4 separate regions of the Homo sapiens genome follow, and regions 1, 2 and 3 are each linked to region 4. The links come from fine-mapping of genetic effects on gene expression. A gene starts in region 4. Each other region holds a variant in brackets. All regions are shown on one strand. Distances are between the middles of the regions.

Region 1 (5,151 bases), 65 kb after region 4:
GGTGAGCAGAAAACCCAAAGCCAGGGGCCGGGCGCAGTGGCTCACACCTGCAATCCCAGCACTCTGGGAGGCCGAGGCAGGCGGATCACTTAATGTCAGGAGTTCGAGACTAGCCTGGCCAACATGGGGAAACCCAGTCTCTAATACGAATACAAAAATTAGCTGGGCATGGTGGCAGGCACCTGTAATCCCATCTACTTGAAGGCTGAGGCATGAGAATTGCTTGAACCTGGGAGGCGGAGGTTCCAGTGAGCTGAGATCGCACCACTGCACTCCAGCCTGGGCTACAGAGCAAGACTCTGTCTCAAAAAAGAAAACCCAAAGCCAGGGAGATTTTAATGCCAACCACCTAGATCCAAACTCAGCCACTCCACGGACCCTCCCTGACGCTGCTGGGAGCCAGACACCACAGGGAAGCAGGGGCAAAAACTGACCCTCACGCAGTGTCCGCCTCCAGGGAACTGTGGAACACGTCGCAGAGAGCTCAAGCGCCACGTTTGGATCCCTGAGCAGCTGTCACAAGCCTGCACCCAGGACTGGGGGGCCTGCTGCGAGAGCCCAAAGGGAAAGGGAGAATTTCCAAGGCTGCATCCAGCTCCATCAGGCCCAGTGAATTTCCACACAGCCCGGGTCACCACGCTGTTATGAAATCAAATTCCTTCTGTGACCCCTAGTATGTACCGGTAAATCCAGCTGGAGGGCGGGAATTCCCTAGCTGCTGCTGTGCTTTTGACAATTTTTCAAGAGCAGGACACTCGCTGTACACAATAATCACTGAACATTGAATATGAAGGTGTCGGCTCTAACGTGGCCTCAGCTCGAGGTTCAGGGGAAAGAGAAACAGTCCAGCAGTCAGAGGCCCTTGGGTAAGTCCTTTCCCATCTCTGGGCTCAGTTTCCGAATCTGCAAAGTGGGGCAGCTGGGTGGGCATCACTTGGCACCTGCGCAGGGCTGGTGATGGGGGTACGAGATGAAGTAGGGAGAAGCCTAACTAACTCAGGACGCCACTCAACACCACACAGCCGGGAGGGACAGCAGCAGCCCTGGATCGGTTTGACTCAGGTCCCATGGGGTTTTCAAATTTAGATTTGAAGCATGGGCCAGGTGCGGTGGCTCACACCTGTAATCCCAGCACTTTGAGAGGCAGAGGCAGGTGGATCACCTGAGGTCAGGAGTTGGAGACCAGCCTGGCCAACATGGTGAAAACCAGTCTCTACTAAAAATACAAAATTAGCTGGGCGTGGTGGTGGGTGCCTGTAATCCCAGCTACTCGGGAGGCCAAAGCTGGAGAATTGCTTGAACCAGGGAGCTGTGGGTTGCAATGAGCCGAGATCACACCACAGCACTCCAGCCTGGGTGACAGAGTGAGACTCCGTCTCAAAAAAAAATAAATAACTTTTATTTTTTTGAGACAGTGTCTCACTGTCACCCAGGCTGGAGGGCAGTGGCATAATCACAGTTCACTGTAGCCTTGACCTCCATGCCTAATTTTTTTTTTTTTTTTTTTTTTTTTTTTTTTTTTTTTTTTTATAGAGACAGGGTATCACTATGTTGCCCAGGCTGATCTCAAACTCCTGGGCTCAACGGATTCTCCCACCTCTTCCTCTCAAAGTGCTAGGATTACAGGCATGAACCACCATGCCCGGCCTGAACTATCTTAAACATCCCAGGGGGTTTCCTCAAAATCCAGGTTTCCAGCTGCTCATGGAAAGAAATGAAGCTCTCACAACCTTCAACCTCAGTTTGCCCCCCCAGTCCCCTCATTTATAGGAGTCTTCAACCTACATCACCCAAAAATCCCACCGCACCCCCCGAACCGCCTTCAAGCATAGCCACCCAAGAACCAGGCCCGACTGCTCAGAGGAGAAGGGATGCCCCATCCCTGAAATGTCAGAACCCCTCCCCAGACATTGCTGCACTCTCCCGTTGGGCCTCAGTTCTGTCGGGCTGGGAAGCTGGTGGCTGGCTTGCCTTCTGGAGGAGGTGGCATCCTACCTCCTGTCCCTTCTCTCAGCTACAGCCGCGGCCAAGGAGGAACTCCTGAGTCCGGGGAGCCCCCACCTCAAAAAGGCCCCAGCTGCTGGCCTGGGGGCCAGGGCCCCCGCATGACCTACCAGCACAGGTCATAGAGTCCTAGAATGTTCAACGCCCAGAGTTCCAGGAAAGAGGCTGGCCCTGGGAGGGGAGGGCCCTGTCCAGGCCTCCCAGGACAGCAGATGGGAGCAGTGGCCTCGCAACTCCACAGTTAGAGACACTGCCCTGCCTTGTTCTATCCAAAGTCTCCCTCCCTCCTTTCTCCTGGAGTCAAGCATAGCTGACTTTTTTTTTTTTTTTTTTTTTTTTTTTTAATTTGAGATGGAGTCCTGCTGTCGCCCAGGCTGGAGTGCAATGGCACAATCTCGGCTCACTGCAACCTCCACCTTCTGGGTTCAAGTGATTCTCCTGCCTCAGCCTCCCAAGTAGCAGGGGTTACAGGTGCCCGCCATCACGCCCGGCTAATGAAGCATAGCTGACTTCTAATCCTACCCCTTGCCTGCTGTGTGGTCTTGTACAAGTTACTTAATCTCTCTGGGCCTCAGT[T/C]TCCACATCTGGAAAATGGGAATTATAATAGTCCCGATTTCACACCATCAGGCTGAACTGAAAACAAAATAATACACACTAAGCACTGGGCACACTGTCCGCCCAGGTCCAGTGAGCAGTAATTGTCAGCTACGACTGTTGTTATAATTGTCATCATAAAGGCACTCAACAGACACGTGCCCAATACCGAGCCCTGTTCAAGGCCCCAGAGACAAAGGGCTGAACTTGAAGCCAGAGAATAAACAGTTAAATAAACATAAACCAGATCATTACAGATCCCAAAAGGGCTGTAAAGAAACAGACAGAAGGGGATAGGGGGAGAAGGGTGGGAATACACACGCTAATCAGGGTGCCTGCAGGACCCTGAACAGCAAGAAAGGGGTAGCCATTTGCAAAACGGAGGGAGGCTGTTCCAGGTATAGGGAACAGCCTGTGCAAAGGCCCTGAGGGCCCGGGTGGGACTGAGGCCAGTGGGGAAACCATGTGATGGGTGGGGGACTAGGAATGGGAGGCAGGAAAGGCGGTGGAAAGGGTAGGGCCCGCTCAGGAATCATGCCGCGTCATCATCATCATCACTGTCATTGTCACCATCGTCGTCCTCCTTGCATCTTCCATTTGTCACACCCATTTTCCCCTGGGTGAATGGCACAGACCCAAAATGGGGGCCCCCTTCTTTCTCCACCCAAGCCCCCTCAACACCCCAAGTGCACCCAATCCTTCAGAGATGCCACTGGAAGCTCATGGCCTGTAGGGGTGAGGAGTCTGAGGGCAGCACAGGGCCCCTCTGTGTCCCAAGGGCCCAGCACAGGCACTGGCACAGAGCAGGGTCTCCAGACGGTCCAGGAATGGCCACAAGGATGGCTTTTTTTTTTTTTTTTTTTTTTTTTCAGATAGGATCTCACTTGGTCACCTAGGCTGGAATGCAGTGGCGCGATCATGGCTCACTGAAGCCTCTCAACCTCCTGGGCTCAGGTGATCCGCCCACCCCAGCCTCCTGGGTTGTGGGACTACGGCCACGTGCCACCACAACCAGCTCATTTTTTGTAGAGACAGGGTTTCAATATGTTGCCCAGGCTGGTCTTAAACTCCTGGGCTCAAGCGATCGGCGCACCTTGGCTTCCCAAAGTGCTGGGATTACAGGCGTGAGCCACCACACCCAGCTTCCAAGCCTCATTCTTTGCCAGCATTAGGACCCAAAGCCCCAGCTGGCTGCCACTGCATTGGTGTGCACTCAGCACCATGCCCAGCCCAGCAGGAGGTGGCTACATTCCTGCTCACCTGATAGTGGAAGAAACTGAGGCACGGAGCAGACGTGACTAGGGGCGGGGGCAGTGCCAACTGGGAGACCCAGGAGCTTTATCCAGCCTCTCATGGCCCATCTGGGCTGAAGCCAAGCTGGGGTGGCCAGAGTAGGCCTGGCCAAGGGCCACTCACTCCCCAGTAGGCCCAGCAGAGAGGAGTGAATGGCCTCAGTGCGGGGGAGGGCCGGGCAAAGTCCAGCTGGAAAGAAAACAACTGGGGGGCGGGTAACCAGGCACCCAGAAGCCAGCTCTGAGGCCCTGGCCAGCCTCTGCTGTGTCCCCTCCACAATACACACATACACAAGGATGGGGCCACACAGCAGCCCCGCCCACCAGCACAGTCCCAGCTTCCAGCCAGCCACTGCTCTCCCAGCAATACCAGGCATGGCCTTGGAGTGTCCCCAGCAGAAGACAGGGCCTGCCCTCTGTGACTAGCCTTCAGCTCCCCACAGCTGGGGGAGGGAGGAAGGCTGCAAACAGATCCGCCACTCAGATGAGCTTCTGGCCTGCAACAAACTTCGACCAAATGTCACGACCAAGGTGTCATGACTGCCAGGCTGCATGTACATGTGTGCTCGTTTGTGCACAGGTATGTAGGTGTATGCACATGTGTATGTGTGTGCTGTGTATATACGCATGTGTACACATACATATGTGCCCACACATGGCTGTCTCTGCATCTGAGCGCATACACGTGTATGCATGCGTGAACTTGTTGCCGTCTGTATGCACACGTCCATGGAGCGGGGAGCCTCACCTCACCGCACAGCACGCTGGGCACCTGTGCTGCCACAGGGGACCTTGATGAACTCTGCCACTTCCTATTGAACCAACAGATAAGGGAGTGGGACAGACCATGACTACCACCACCACAGCAGTGTCCTGGGGCCATTCTGCTTACTACTTTACAACACTTCACACAGCCCAGCTCATTCTATCCCCATTTCACTAATGGGAGAACGGAGACACAAAGAGTCAAGTAACTTGCCCAGGGTCGCCCGGCTAACAAAGACCCTGGTGAAATACGGAGTAAGTCAGACAGCAGAAATGCTACGGAGAAAAAGCCAGCAGGGTAAGGGGGAGAGGCTGCACCAGGAGGTGCCCAGCTGGCCATGCACCCCCTTCCCCAGTCAGCCCCCAGGCTCTGATGAGTGCCCGGCCAAGGGAGGGAGCCCAGGGTGGTGGGGGCAGGAAGCCACGCCCACCCTGACTGCCCCAGGGATGGGTGTGTCGGCTGGGAGAAGGGGGCCTCGGCCGAAAATAGCCTGGG
Region 2 (5,151 bases), 31 kb after region 4:
AGTTAATTTTTCACAAACCTACAATTTGCTTAAACTTTCAGTTTTATTTTGTCTTTCAACCAAAAATAATCTTTAAACTCTCTAAATTAGAGAAGATTTTCTCTTTTAAAAAAACCCATATTCCCATGTCTTTAAGCAGTTTTAATTACATACCAAGTGCAGAGCCTAGAATACAGGACAGAACTGCAGATAAAGTCTGACTCTCTCTGGCCTAGCTAGGAGTCATGGCTACCTCCATATGTCCCCAGGCCTTATCTGGAATCTAATGGCTCTAAAGTAGGTAAATTGAACAATTACAAAAGTCACAGAAGCCACTTATGACCTTAAAGCATCCAGCAGAAACAGTATCTGATCTGCCTAATTCAGACCAAATGAAGACAGTTTTATTTCATCAATAATCTTTAAAACTATCTTTATTTACCAAAGATTACTAACGTCATGTGAACTAAAATGCATTAGAGTTGCTATTTCTTTGAAAAAATATTTAAGTGCTTATTTTTTAAGCCAATTAATTACAGCTCTTAAACATCACACACACAACATTATAAATATATAGACCGAAGAAGATGCATTAGTTAAGATTTTTCATTTGCTGATTTTTTAGGGGTTTTTTTTCCCCATTTTACAAATCTTGTCACGACTCACAGAGACCATCTATGCCATGCTTGGACTGTCTGACTTGTCCTATGTGTCCCTCTTTCGTGAATAATCAGTCGTTCTATTTTAGGACAAGAATTTACCATACAAGATCTTTTCTCATATAAATTTCTTTTTTTATAATCATCCTTACCAAAAATACATCTTTATAGCCTCAACTTTTTTCACATATCTCTCTCCCCTACTAAAGTAATTCCTGATGCCCTCAAAAGTGAAAAAGGCCAAGTAATGTGATTCAAAACAGAACAGAGCCTTAGATTTTGAGAGGGGTCTGTCTGCTTACACTTCTTGGGGTTTTATGAGGAAAACAGAGTTTCTCCCAAAACAGGGTCTGTGGAGCCTTCTCTCTTTTTCCCAAGGAGTCCCCAGCTGTCAGAAAGTACCTTAGGTCCTCTCATGTGGGCATTCAGAGTGGCAGGAAGACAGACTGGGGAAATAATTCAGTTGACTGAGAAGAAAGACAAACAAAAACTCATTCCTCGAAGAAAAAAAAAAAATCCAGGAAGAGAAAAAGCACAAAGGCCTTTTTTTTATTTTTTTATTTTTATTTTTATTTTTTTTTGAAATGGAGTCTTGCTCTGTCACCCAGGCTAGATAGAGTGCAATGGCATGATCTAAGCTCACTGCAGCCTCTGCCTCCCGGGTTCAAGTGATTCTCGTGCCTCAGCCTCCCGAGTAGCTGGGACCACAGGCACACGCCACCAGGCCTGGCTAATTTTTGTATTTTTAGTAGAGACAGGGTTTCACTATGTTGGCCAGGCTGGTCTTGAACTCCTGACCTCAAGTGATCCCCCTGCCTCAGCCTCTCAAAGTGCTGGGATTACAGGCATGAGCCACTGCACCCAGCCCACAAAGGCCTTTTAAATGTGTGCATATATATATATATATATATATATATATATATATATATATATGCACACATTTATATATATATATTTATATATATTTATACATATTTATATATTTATATAATATATATTATATATATTGTATAATATATAATATATATGTTATATATTATATATATGTTATATAATATATGATATATATGATATATATTATATATATTATGTTTTATATATAATATATATTTATAAATATATATATTTATAAATTTATATATATATATAAAACTTGGATATCCATTTTTAATTAAGCAGATTTTAACTGTAGAACTCTTTTTTTTTTTTTTTTTTTTTACAAAATCTTTTTAAATTTCTTATTACCAGACTCTAGCCAGGATAGACAGCCAGTATTTCTGGCTTTTGAACTTTACCACAGGTAACCTCCTAGCAAAATTAATAAGTCTTATCTAAGATTATGACTTAACTACAGAAGTATAAGATGTCTCAAAGGGATGGTAAGCAGTTTTTTGTTTTTTTCTTTTACAAGATTTAGAATCTCCCCAAACGTAGTTTAGAGAAAAGAAAATTTAAGGCAGATTTCAAGGCAAGCTGTCCATGGTGGGGAAAGAATCAATAAATGGCACACAAAAAAAACTTACATAAATAACAAACCAGAGAGCACCCATTCCGTAAGCTGGGAACCAGACCCAGGCTACCACTGTGAAATAGCAAAGCTTCAGCTACTGAGCTAAAGCTGAAGGCTGTTACACTGGTCTTCCTGGGAATCCAGGACTTTACTCAAGATAATTCTTAAGGCTAGACATGACACTGTCACATGTCCTCTCAGACCAGCTACCGACATGAACCCAAAAATTCATGCCCTCTGGATGCCGGAGACCAAAAGAGGGTACCCTGACATGGTCCCAAAGTCAAGTTTTTCAGGACGTAAAACAAGAGAAGAGGGAAACCTTATCTGGTTTTTGTTGGAGCAAAGTTTGGAACTGACCAGTCTGCCAGGCTGGATTGAACAGCGGGCTTAGAGGGGTCCTATGTCCACATCCTATTCTGTGGTCCTGCTCTCCATGACAGAGGATGCAGCTGTGAGTGGGTTTGGTTTGCGCTGTATCTCCAGCTACTAAAGCAATGCTTGGCAGGTAGTAGGTGTTCTAGAAAGGTGTGTCGTATTAATGTGTGAATACTGACTCCCCCTCCTAAGTCACTGAGTGAGGAGAGAGGATGTGTGATTCATCTGAGGCATGTGAGAGCTGGTTGTGCCTTTGTCTTTGTTTTTCTTTTTTCTTTTGAGATGGAGTCTCACTCTATTGCCCAGGCTGGAGTGCAGTGGTGCGATCTTAGCTCACTGCAGCCTCCACCCACCGGGTTCCAGTGATTTTCCTGCCTCAGCCTCCAGAGTAGCTGGGGATTTGTATTCACAGCACAGAGT[G/A]CACCAGATTCCCTACAGCCTAAGTCTAGGCTCATAAGATTTTTTCTATTAATCAGACCCTTGCAGAGGAGACAAACAGTGATGTTTTCCATTCATACACGGCGAGAGGGGCCAGAAGCCTGGCTGGTAAGAAATGTTTACCCTTTTTGCCTGCATGTCAGGTTTCTGGGTTCCCATTCTCTGTAGCTTCCAGAAGAACGGAGCAGCTCTTGATGACCCTGATCGCTGCACGCTAGCTGTGGGCGCCAAGTCGCATTGCAAAGGAAAACCATCCGTTTCTGTTTTATGGAACCACAGGCAAAAGCCTCTCAATTTTTCAAGATGCTGCCCAATGGGCTGCATGGGGAACTGAATTAACATTTTCCATCCTGGCCAGAGCAGAGTACACATGACAAAACTAGTCACTATGCTCAGTGCCCAGCATCAACTTGGCAAGGCTCACACTTGCTCCCGTTGGTCTCTGTCATCTTTGATCCACTCCACTCAAGGTGGGAAGGGACGCCTTCCACCGGGAATTCAAAGGATGGTCTCTGAGCCAGATGGAAGAGCGGATGGTCACCCTCGAGGCAGCCCTGTCAAACTTCCGAGCTTCTGCTGACAAGTCCTTCAGGGTTCAGTGAATGTGACCAACCAGACAAACTAGGAGAGCCTGATGGACTTCCTTCAGCAATTCCCTTAGACATCTCCTCCACATATACAAACACATACAGCAAAACACCTTCCAGAAAGAGTTTCCAGACTAAATCACAAACCAAGAGTATTCCTCCAAACAAGTCCCCTATTCTCTGTACAATTAGGGCAGATACCCCATGCTGGGGCTACAAACAGATACCACCTAATAGAGCTAGAGATGCCCCATGATGGGGCTACAGGCAGACACCCAATGATGGGGCTACAGACAGATACCCTGTGATGGGGCTACAGTTACAGGACGTCTCCCCAGGACTGTTTATTGCAGTTAAATCCATACACCATGGGTTGGCAGCACCCCATTAGTAGAGATGGTGCCAGTGTCAGCCCCCAGTCGAAGAGAACTAGGTGGCCGCCTGGGCTGGCCTCTGGATCCATCACCAGTGAGGGGGGTTGGGGAGGCTACTGAATCGCTGGAAGATAGCCACAAGGGAGATCACAGATGAGCCCCCAAATTTGTAACCCCCTCCACAGGTTCTCCTTGCCCACAGCCTAGACAGCCAATTTATCAAGACAGGAGAATTGCAATAGACTAATTCACACAGAGCCAGCTGTGCAGGAGACTGGAGTTTTATTATTACTCAAATCAGTCTCCAAGAATTTGGGGATTTGAGTTTTTAAGGATAACTTGGTGGGTAGGGGCTCTGGAGGTGTGGATTGCTGATTGGTCAGCATGGAGATGAAATCATAGGGGGTAGAAGTGAGTTTTTCTTGCTGTCTTCTGTCCTTGGGTGGGATCAAAGTGCCGGTTGAATCATATTACCTGTCTGGGTGGCGTCAACTGCTGCATTGGAAGGCAGGGTCTGCAAAATACCTCAAGCACTGATCTTAGGATTTACAAGCGATGTTATTCTCAGGAGCAATGTGGGGAGGTTCAGACTCTTGCAGCCAGAGGCTCCGTGGCTCCAAAACCATAATTTCTAATCTTGTAACTAATTTGTTAGTCCTACAAAGGCAGACTGGTCCCCAGGCAAGAAGGGGGTTTATTTCAGGAAAGAGCTGTTATCCTTTGTTTCAAAGTTGAACTATAGGCCGGGCAGGGTGGCTCACGCCTGTAATCCCAGCACTTTGAGAGGCTGAGGCAGGCCGATCACTTGAGGCCGGGAGTTTGACACCAGCCTGGTCAACAGGGTGAAACCCCGCCTCTACTAAAAGTACAAAAATTAGCCAGGTGTGGTGGTGCACACCTGTAATCCCAGCTACTCGGGAGGCTGAGGCAGGAGAATCACTTGAACCTGGGAGGCAGAGATTCCAGTGAGCCGAGAGTGTGCCACTGCACTCCACCTTGGTGACAGAGTGAGACTCCGTCTCCAAAAACAAAAAAAACAAAGTTGAACTATAAACTGAATTCCTCCCAAGGTTAGTTCAGCCTGTGCCCTGGAATGAACAAGGACAGCTTGGAGGTTAGAAGCAAGATGGAGTCAGGCCAGATCTCTTTCACTGTTAACATTTTCTCAGTTATAATTTTTGCAAATGTGGTTTCAGTCCCTGCATCCATAATACCTAGAAATTTGA
Region 3 (5,128 bases), 56 kb after region 4:
GGTAATTTTTGTCTTTTTAGTAGAGACGGGGTTTCACCATGTTGGCCAGGCTGGCCTTGAACTCCTGACCTCAGGTGATCCACCTGCCTTGGCCTCTCAAAGTACTGGGATTACAGGCATGGGCATGAGTCACCATGCCCGGCCTTTTTTTTTGTTTTTGAGACAGAGTCTCACTCTGTTATCCAGGCTGGGGTGCAGTGGCACAATCTTGGCTCGCTGCAACCTCTGCCTCCAGGTTCAAGTGATTTTCCTGCCTCAGCCTCCCAAGTAACTGGGATTACTGGTATGCACCACCACGTGCAGCTAATTTTTGTATTTTTAGTAGAAACGGGGTTTCACTATGTTGCCTAGGCTGGTCTTGAACTCCTGACCTCAAGTGATCTGCCCACCTCGGTTACCAAAGTGCTGAAATTACAGGCGTGAGCTACCACGCCCGCTCCCCACCTTCAGCTTTTGCCAAACCCTTCCTTGGCTACCCATGTAGTACTCCATATAGTAAGTAAGTCAGCAAATCTCATTGTTTTGAGCTAAGTGCCTACGTTAGGCTCTCCCTAAACAGGTTTGATGGGCTGGTTTTTTCCCAATATGCTTTGGAAATCATTGTATAATACTGACAAGAAAAGTGTCCATCTCTGCACCACCCAAAATCACTGCCTCCCTTGGGAGACACCGGCCAGAGCAAAGCCTTCCCAACAGAGCACAGCGACCCCATAGAGTGGCCCCTGCCTGTCACTGCTCTCCTGGAAACCAAGAACAGGAGTTCTTACACCTGCCCACCTTCTGCCCTCACTCCCACTGCCCCAACAGCAAACCCTTCCTCCCCTGCTATGGACCTTGAAAAGCTCTCCGTCCTAGGACTCTGCCAGCCCCGGGCCCTCAAGCCTCATCTGCTTCCAGCCCCTGACTTCATGCCTGAAGAGCAGCAAGCTTTTTTTTTTTTTTTTTTTTTTTTTTTTGAGACTGGGTGTCACTGTCACCCAGGCTGGAGTGCAGTGGTGCATTCACAGCTCATTGCAGCCTTCACTTCCTGGGCTCCAGCAATCCTCCCACTTCAGCCTCTGGAGTAACTGGGACCACAGGCTCATGCCACCATGCCCAGCTAATTGTATTTTTGGTAGAGACCATGTTTCGCCATGATGCCCAGCTGGTCTCAAACCCCTGAGCTCAAGCCATCCACCTACCTCGGCCTCTCAAAATGCTGGGATTACAGGCGTGAGCCACTGTGCCCAGCCCTAGCAAACGTTCATCAAATGTCTATAGCAGTGGCCGGGTGCTGTGGCTCACACCTCTGGTCCCAGCACTGTGGGAGGCTGAGGCAGGAGGATGGTCTGAGTACAGGACTTCGAGACCAACTTGGGCAATGTAGCAAGTTGCTCTCTACAAAAAATTTAAAAATTAGCCAGGCATGGTGGCATATGCCTATAGTCCCAGCTACTCAGGTGGCTGAAGGAGGATCACTTGAGCCCACAAGGTTAAGGCTGCAGGGCAACAAAGCGAGACCTTGTCTCAAAAACACAAACAAAAAACACTTCTATAGCAGGAATGAGCCAGGGACTGTGGACAGTGTGCCCCGAGGCCCGTCCTCTCTTCCCACAGCTGATGGGGATGAGGTGTAACTCACACATCCTAAAAGCTTCAACAGGGCACTGGAGCGCCGCTGACCAAGTTACTGGCATTTTCTATTGCCAGGAAGCCGCATTCTCCTCTCTGCTAAGCTTTCTCATGCTAGAGAATGATGACTAAAAAACAGATGATCCCATCTTCTTATTCACCATCCCCTAAAAAAAACAGACTGCCACGTGGAATGTGTCAGCCTCACCTGGGGGAGACACCCTTATCTGACGACTTAAAAGGAAAAACTTGGTGAGCCAGCCTCCACACAAACACACGCATAGCCTTGCACAAAACAAAAATTTATTGGGAGAAAGATGGCTGATGGGAGGCAAGATCTGGATTCAGGAATCCTCAATTTTAGCTCTCGCTCTGTCACCAAAACCCTCCGTCCCTCCCAGAGCCTCGAGGAGTTTCCCCTTGTGTAAACCGGTATCGCGTCCCTTCCAGCTCTGACATCCTGCGGTTCTAGAATACCCATTGATTGAAAGAGCTGTGGCCAAACAGGAAGGACAGAGTAAGAGCCGCTGACAAAGGATTCTGCCAAGACAGAATCCCAGGGTCACAGGAGAGAGGCTTGGGGCAGTGAAAGCCCTCTCGGGTCTTGGCTGTGGAAGTGTGGACTGTACCAGCAGATGGGCCCTTGGGAAGCCAACAGGGAACAATTCAAGGCTGGAGAGAAAAGGCCACCTTTGACCCAGCAGAAGGCAGAGGCGGGAGAGGAGGGTGAGGATGTACAAGGAGCATCGCAGGCGAGGAAACAA[T/C]GGCCAGGACCTAACTGTGGTGGGAACTGCCTTTGTCTCCACACACTCGCAATCAACATGCGTATTTGCTATTCTCAAACAACTCCCTTCCACCCCCTTAGGCTGAAAGGACAAACTCATCAGAGTTGAGGAGTACCTACCTGATGAAGCTGTTCATGCTTCCAGCATCAAACTGGACGTTTACTGTCTGCCCAAAAGCCAGTTTCCAAAAGGTTTGCTTGCCTCTGTTCAGTGGATTCTTGACTACATATAGGTCATATATTTCAAAAAATAATGCCTAGCTATTTCTACTTTGAAATCATGACTAAAGCCAAACCACAACCACAGCAAAGATAACCTAAGGATTTGTTTACCAGAAATACCTACAAAAAAGTTTGCAGGCCGGGCGCGATGGCTCACACTTGTAATCCCAGCACTTTGAGAGGCCGAGATGGGCAGATCATCTGAGGTCAGGGGTTCAAGACCATCCTGCCCAACATGATGAAACCTGGTCTCTACTAAAAATACAAAAATTAACCGGGTGTGGTGGCGCATGCCTGTAATCCCAGCTACTCAGGAGACTGAGGCGGAATTGCCAGAACCCTGGAGGGCAGAGGTTGCAGTAAGCTGAGATCGGGCCACTGCACTCCAGCCTGGGTGACAGAATGAGACTCAGTCTCCCACCCTGCCAAAAAGTTTGCAATGTCGGCAGCAAAGTGCAAACAGAGCCGGCTCTGGGTGAAAGCTTTAGTTATGAAAAATAAGAAAAAAAAAATCCCTAAGCATTTCTTAACACTAGTTTTAAAGAAAACCCCCTCTCCAAAGGTATGTTTCTCCTTCAACTTTCTTGACTTTGCCAGGCTGTCAGGATGCAAGCTACCTACTCTTTTCTGGATGGATCGGGACAAAGTTTTTAAACAAAGACTGTGTCCTCTCCACAAGCCCTTCCCACCACCACCACCCCAGCCCCCCGCCGCCATAATTACAGGGGCTGTGAAATGGCTGTTGAGTGATGGTCACACAACCAGAAGGCAGATGAAAAGGTCAGGCTCTAAGAGGGGTTCAGCCTCCCAGTACCAGCCTGCTGTGCCCAGGGGTGGGAGTGCTGGGAGAACTGTCTTCCCCAGACAGGCAGCTATGCCGCCTCCCACTGCAAAGGCACCAAAAGGCAACATCCGTCCAATCCAAAGACCGCCACCCCCGCCTTTCCCCACCCACTTCAAGCCAGCTCCCCTAGAACCAACCAAGCCAAGAATTAGAAAACTGCTTTGCCCAGGCCCCAGGAGAGGCGCAAGGGGCACTTAGGTGGAAATTTGCCTTGGAGAAGTCACGCAAGGTCCCTGTCAGGCTGCCAGGGGGCCAGATCTGGGAATCTGGGGCCTCCAGCTCCAGGAGGAAGAGGGATTCTGTGGGTTGAGCCCATGTGTCTGAGCAGCTGGAGAAATACCACCCTTGATCCACTCCCTGGGATGGGGTTGGAACCTCCACTCAGCCACCAGTGGGCACCTCTCCTTTTTAAATGCTTTTAATGCTCTTCAGATGGTGAGAGGTTGTTGCAATGGTCATAGGCTGTGCTGATGGCCGGGAACACCCCACACCCCACACCTGCCCCCCATACCCCTTCCTCCAGGAGATACTTGAGAGGGACCATGCCCGGCTGAAGCCCCGTCTCGTGTGGAAGAATGTCATCTCCAGTGTCTGCTGCCTCCTCCCTGCAAAGTCTCCCACAAGCACAGGACAAGGGGTGCTTCCACCATCTCCTAGGAGCTGATGACATGTCCAGACCAGGTCTCATGCTTGGTGCCTGGTGCCAGGTGAGTGATGACGACCTCCACGGCCTGCAGCTTCTCATTCTTGGGTGGGATGGAGCACATTTTATAGGTGACCTCGTCGCCTTCCACTGGGACATACTCCCCTTCCACACTACGGGGGCATAAATAAAGCAGTCAGGGCTCACACCGGGACACAGCTCCCTTCCCCAAGACACCAGCCACCCTTCTGGTCACACAGCCACCAAAGCAGGCACCATCTGACCAACCACCGGGAACCTCTTTCCAAAGAACTGCCCCTCCACCAGAGGGAGCTGCCACACTGCCCCCAGCCTCTGTCCTAGGCAAGGAGGCCCTGGCCCAATCAGCTCCTTCCCTGGGACTTTTGATGCTGGAACTGAAAGAGTTCAGCCACCTGTGGGTGCTCACATGGTGACATGAAATGTGGGAGGGAGCCTGGGCTTGTGACTGAAGAGTAAAGACAGCCAGTCCAAGCCAGAGAGCCAGAGAGAAACAAGGCCATCATGGAGTGAGAATCCGAGTTGAGGGGTGGCCTGGGCAGGGCTTTCCTGAGGTCCTCAGCACTGCAGCCCCTGGTTCCAGGAGTCTCAGAAACCGCACCGTGTCTTTGTTCTCAAATTCCCCAGTTTCCCAGCCTGCCTTTTTTTGAGACAGAGTCTTGTTCTGTTGCCCAGGCTGGAGTGCAGTGGTGTGATCTCAGCTTACTGCATCCACCTCCCGAGTTCAAGTGATTCTCCTGCCTCAGCCAAGTATCTGGGACTATAGGCACCACAGCCAGCTAATTTTTGTATTTTTAGCAAAGTCAGGGTTTCACCATGTTAGCCAGGCTGGTCTCAAACTCCTGACCTTAAGTGAGCCACCTGCCTCAGCCTCCGAAAGTGCTGGGATTACAAGCGTGAGCCACCACGCCTGGACTCCCGGTGAGCCTTCAAGAAGGTCCCTTTGGTGCATGAAGCTAGTTCCTGGAGGGGCCTCTCCCTGTGA
Region 4 (5,151 bases):
TTTGTATTTTTTAGTGGAGACACGGTTTCACCCTGTTAGCGAGGATGGCCTCGATCTCCTGACCTCGTGATCCGCCACCTTGACCTCCCAACGTGCTGGGATTACAGGTGTGAGCCACCGCCCCCAGCGATAAAACATTCTTATTGACTTTCGAGTGGCAAAATAATAAAGATCATGCCTTCCTTCCTCTTTACTGTGTTACAAATTGTATAATGAACATATATTATTAATTATGTGGGGCAATGTATATAACTGGCTTAAGTTTATAAAATAACGTACCAGCATCCGGTGCATTTGGCTTTATTACACTGCAGGGCCATCCAAAGCAAGAGCCTCTAGACCTCTGGGTGGTGAACAAATCTCAACTGGGGTTTCGTGCCTACCTGGACGACATCTGCTCGTCAATGTGTAGTTAACATCCTGACAGACCCTTCTGCCGCTGGATATGTGAGGGGCACAGCACAGGGCTCTGGAAGTCCCTGCTGACTGCTCGAAGCCTTTCTCCCTGCTAAAACCTCTGACCAAATGCTTAATAATATCTGCTGTAGGCTGTTGAGTCTGCCACACGTTTGACATTTATTGTTTATTCCCACACCCATCCCATGAAACAAGCAGGACTTTCCATTTTACAGATGTGAAAACCAAGATTCAAAGAGACTCAATAACCTGCTCCAGGACAAATGACAGAACTGAGACTTCTGACTCCAAATCTTACGCTCCCCCGCCACACCTCTTTGCCTTTCTCTTTCACACCAATGGACTCTATGGGTGACCTTGGCATAGGTTCTTCTAAGAACTGGCTCTTAACAAAAACTTCTGGCCATTATCTGACTGAATGTCACAAACAAGTGCTGTAAGAACTTGCTTAGAGCCTTTTTCCTAAACCTGTACACCAGCTCTTGCCTTGTGAATTTATTCACCACAAAACACATGTTCCCAGGGGCCCAGGCAAAGTCTCCAAGTACCCAGTCCCCTTTCTTCAGCCTTGCCCACACCCTCAGCCTTCCTGTTAATCCAGGCGACCCAGGGTTACCCAGAGGTCCAGGTCCCAGTTGTTCACTTGAGCATCTGATGTACCCCAAACACCTGTGTGAAACGCTCTCTGTCCAGGATGCGTCCATAGCGCAGGGTGACGTAGAAGGTCTGTTTCCCACTGTACCGCTGGATACGCACAAACATCTCCTGAGGCCGGTCCTTGGTTTCTGTCAGGGGAATCACATCTGCCATGGGACAGTATGTGTCCTGCCGCCAGCCCCAGAAGTTCAGATGGGCCACCCGCAGCATGGTGCCAGACTCATTCAGATACAGGATACCAACCAGTCTCCGTAAGAAATAGCTCATCCAGCACAGCATGGTCAGGGCAAAGCCCGATATCCCACTCATGAGGCACACGGTGTTGAGAGTGAGGAGGCCCTGGGAGTACAAGTAATAGCCTGGTGGCAAAGCTACCACTGTCAGGGCAGTCTGTGCCAACTTCAGTCGTGACAGGAACCCGAAGGTTCTGATGGCATCAAAACGGTAAAACATCCAGAATTTCTCAGTCTCTGCGTTTGGTAGTTTCTCCTTCGAGATGGGTGAACTGCTGCCCACCCACCTCTTAGGATCCTCCTGCCCACTGCAGCACCACAGCCCATGGAGAGGCCTTTCCCACACAGCTTTTCCCCGAAACCTACGCACAGCTCGGAGAAGGGCAGCCTGAAAGGGAGACAGTAGACCATTTCTCTCATGGAACTCAACCACATTAATCACACGGTGAACATCTGCAAAGCACCATACTCTAAGGCTTCTGCCAATCCTGCAAGGTAACCGTTATTGCCAGACGAGGGAAGGGTAAAGCCAGATGCTATCTCATGTGGGCATCACAACAGCTATCTAAGATAGTTATCACTATTTCCACTTTACCACTAGGGAAACTAAGCCCAGAGAGGGTAAGATATTTACCAAAGATCACACAGTCAGTGAGTGCAGCAGAGTCCTCCTTCCACCAGGCAATTCCAAATAAATACAGGAAAGGAGGTGCGGCCGTCATTAATTCAAAACATATCCAGGGAGGACAAACTCTGGGCTGGACAATGTATCCACAAGGGGGTGTGAACATTTCCCCAAGCAGGAAACTAAATAATCAGTGTCTTAGTGGGGAACTCGAGCAACAAATCTGTGAGATATTTATTCCAATAAACTTTCTAATTCTCTGTTTGATTCATATGCTATCTTGGGTGCTGGAGGGAACTGCTGCTTTCTCTTAGCCTAGTCTGGGGAAGGGGAAACAGCGGAGAAGGAGAAGGAGCGAGGCAGGGAGGCCCCAACACGTAGCACAAGGGTATTACTAGGTGGGTAGTGAAGCAGTAAAAGCTCTTATTCCAATTCTGGCTCCAACAGTAATTTGTGAGCAAATTACTCCACACCCCTGAGATTCGGTTTCTTCGCCTTTCAAAATGGGGACTCAGAACACAGTGAACCAGAGGATGGTTTCAGAGTCCTCAACTTAGTACCTAATGCACTGTGAGAGCTCGGCGAGTTTTAGCTACTACTACTGTGCGCATGTGACCCAAGGAGGGCAAGAGAAAGCCCGGGAAAAGCGAACTGTAACACACGCCAGAGCTTCCTCCCACGGATCCTCGGAGTCCGAAACCCGAGCGTCGGGCCTGCCCGCCCCAGCCCTGACCCCGACCCCAAAGAGCATCACCCCCTCAAGGCTCGCCACCCGCCTCCTTACCATGGCCCCACCACCTGCTGCCGGAAGTAAATCCCACCGGCCCCCGGAACCCCTAAGAGCGCATGCTCGAATGTACAAGGCGGGCGTGATCTGCGTTGCACCCTGGGAGTTGCGGTCCAGGAATCGTGGCTGCCGCTACTCCCAGGCGTTATGGGAACGGAGTCCCCTCCTCTTCCCGACGTGCCCTGCGACTCAGCGGCCGAACCCGGAAGTTCCGGGCCGAGTTCCTCGTGCCAACGTGTCTTGTAAGGTGCGGCTAGAAACTGGGGACATGGCAGCGCCTGGCCCAGCGCTCTGCCTCTTCGACGTGGATGGGACCCTCACCGCCCCGCGGCAGGTAAGTGGCGGCCGGCGGGCTGCTGGCAGCCGACGCGGAGCCCGTGCTGTTCCCAGTTGGGGCTATCGACCACCCAGGGTAGGCGCCAAGGGGTGGCTAAGGACCGCCTACGTCCTCACGGCGCTGAACCCTATTCTGGGTGCACTGGAGGAATGAGAGGGAGGCCCTAACCAGCTCTTGAAGAGCTCTGGTGCTTGGAAAGATGAGACGGGGCTGAAGAACTCTTAAGAGCAGGAAACTTGTGCTAGGTTGGAAAATGTAATCTGGACTCACCGCTAGTGCTCGGGACTGATAGACCAGGATTTCAACCCAAGATCAGGCCCCCTTATCAGCTATGTGTCGGCCCCAATCCTGTAACCAATGGGCTGTGCCGTGAGTCATGATATTAAAAACAGGTTTCCAGGTCAAACCGACCTAGTGGAGTCTCATCTTCACCTCTTGACATCTGTGTGACCTTCAGCGAGTCATTAACCTCTCTGAGCCTCAACATCTACAGCTTTAAATGGGGATGTTACCTGTTCCATATGGTGTCTGTGAGGATCAAATGAGATTGTGTAAGTTCTTGAAAGTATGTTGGACACAACACACTAGGCCTCAGTAAATAGTAGCCACCTCCACCACACCCATCTCCAGCCCCTGCAATGGACTAGGGAGATGGAGGAGCCCTAGGTTATTACAGGCTGCCCGCTGAGAGCCTCTTTGGGCCCTTGGAAACTTGCTTTCCACTTTCAGATTTTGCTGCTACAGGCACAGATAAGTTTCAGTTACGATCAGCCTTGAGGTGAGGCTCTCCTGGCCCCTTTTCAGAAATTGGCCACTGAACACTGGCCATTTCAACTTGAGACTGGACCCCAATGGTCTCACTATCCTCAGCTTCTACCCTCACCCCTCATAGTTTTCGCTTGGTGGTAACAATGGTGTGCTCCAGAAGTCCAGGTCAAATGCGTGTGACCTTAGACGTATCATTTTGCCCTTCTCAGCCACAGGTTTGATTTACCTAGTGATGACGCTCAACTCCCAAGTTCTTCAAAGGCTTTTTCTGATTCTGAAATTCAGTGATCACACACTTGGGTTTGTTAAAAGCCCATAGTGGTCTAAAACTCCGGTCCCCAATTCATTTTTTGTAAAGGGCCATATAGCAAATACTTCTCTGTCTTTGCTGACTATGTGGTCTATAGTAACCACTCAACTTTAGTGCAAAACCAGCCATAAACCCTATATAAATAAGAGTGGCTGTGTACCAATAAAATTTTATTTATTTATTACAAAAACAAACAGCTGCCCAATGTGGTCTGTGGGCCATAGTGGTCTAGGGTTTACATTGCCACCCTTTTTCATATCACTGAACCCTCTCAACCTTCCTCCATCTTTCTTCCCAGGTAGGATAGTTGTTATTACCGTTTTAAACATAAGGAAACACACTCAGTGAAGAACTAACCTCCTCAGTTTCACACAGCCAACCTGGTACAAGTCTCTGGGCCTCAGGATATTGGTTCCTGTCAAGTTTGCCATTTCCTATCTGTGCTAAGGTGGAAGCTGTTCTAGTCACTGGGTATGCCATTCAGGAAAGTGCTTCTGATTTTCTGATTTTCACAGTTCTGACTCTTTTTTTTTTTTTAAGACAGAGTCTCACTCTGTCACCAGACTGGAGTGTAGTGGCCCAATCTCAGTTCACTGCAACCTCCACCTCCCAGGTTCAAGCAATTCTCCTGCCTCAGGCAACCAAGTAGCTGGTGCTACAGGCAGGCACCACCACGCCTGGCTAATTTTTGTATTTTTAGTAGAGATGGGGTTTCACTGTGTTGGCCAGGATGGTCTCTATCTCTGGACCTCGTGATCCACCCGCCTCGGCCTCCCAAAGTGCTGGGATTACAGGCGTGAGCCACCGTGTTCTGACTTTTAAAGGCCACTCCTCCAATTCTAGATTCTGTCTAATAGGTCCAGATTCCACTGTGAGAGTAGAAAAGATTGCACTCTATTACAAACCCTTCTGTACAATTTTAATCACATTCATGTATTACTCTAAAAAAGTTTTTTAAAGAAAAATCATTGAACTCCAAGTGTTTATATACTGAGGTTGAATTAAATGGTTTTTTGT

Evidence for each region. PIP is the estimated chance that this variant, and not a neighbour inherited with it, causes the effect.
Region 1: its variant is the best candidate, but not a certain one, in a credible set for the expression of PMM2 in whole blood (INTERVAL, PIP 0.69).
Region 2: its variant is the best candidate, but not a certain one, in a credible set for the expression of PMM2 in lymphoblastoid cells (GTEx, PIP 0.72).
Region 3: its variant is the best candidate, but not a certain one, in a credible set for the expression of PMM2 in blood mononuclear cells (TOPMed, PIP 0.58).

The regions. Positions count from the first base shown.
Region 1 is chr16:8,859,671-8,864,821 of GRCh38, forward strand. The region is part of intron 1 of CARHSP1 (calcium regulated heat stable protein 1); the gene reads right to left. It overlaps LOC100130283 (a long non-coding RNA gene), which reads left to right. Exons shown (of 5, transcript NR_147908.1): 5 at 458-747. Among named protein-coding and RNA genes, the nearest start is that of CARHSP1, 6.8 kb to the right of the region's middle. RefSeq lists enhancers at 246-960, 4,557-4,716. The variant T/C (reference allele first, on the strand shown) is at 2,581.
Region 2 is chr16:8,826,191-8,831,341 of GRCh38, forward strand. All of the region lies in intron 7 of PMM2 (phosphomannomutase 2), which reads left to right. Among named protein-coding and RNA genes, the nearest start is that of PMM2, 31 kb to the left of the region's middle. RefSeq lists an enhancer at 3,288-3,889. The variant G/A (reference allele first, on the strand shown) is at 2,947.
Region 3 is chr16:8,851,050-8,856,177 of GRCh38, forward strand. CARHSP1 (calcium regulated heat stable protein 1) reads right to left here. Exons shown (of 4, transcript NM_014316.4): 4 at 1,898-4,277. The coding sequence ends at 4,115. LOC100130283 (a long non-coding RNA gene) reads left to right here. Exons shown (of 5, transcript NR_147908.1): 3 at 1; 4 at 3,985-4,168. Among named protein-coding and RNA genes, the nearest start is that of CARHSP1, 15 kb to the right of the region's middle. The variant T/C (reference allele first, on the strand shown) is at 2,376.
Region 4 is chr16:8,794,896-8,800,046 of GRCh38, forward strand. It overlaps PMM2 (phosphomannomutase 2), which reads left to right and starts at 2,944. Exons shown (of 8, transcript NM_000303.3): 1 at 2,944-3,053. The coding sequence starts at 2,988. TMEM186 (transmembrane protein 186) reads right to left here and starts at 2,744. Exons shown (of 2, transcript NM_015421.4): 1 at 2,717-2,744; 2 at 285-1,695. The coding sequence starts at 2,719. The coding sequence ends at 1,057. RefSeq lists enhancers at 2,338-3,032, 2,671-2,720, 3,033-3,727 and a silencer at 4,583-4,632.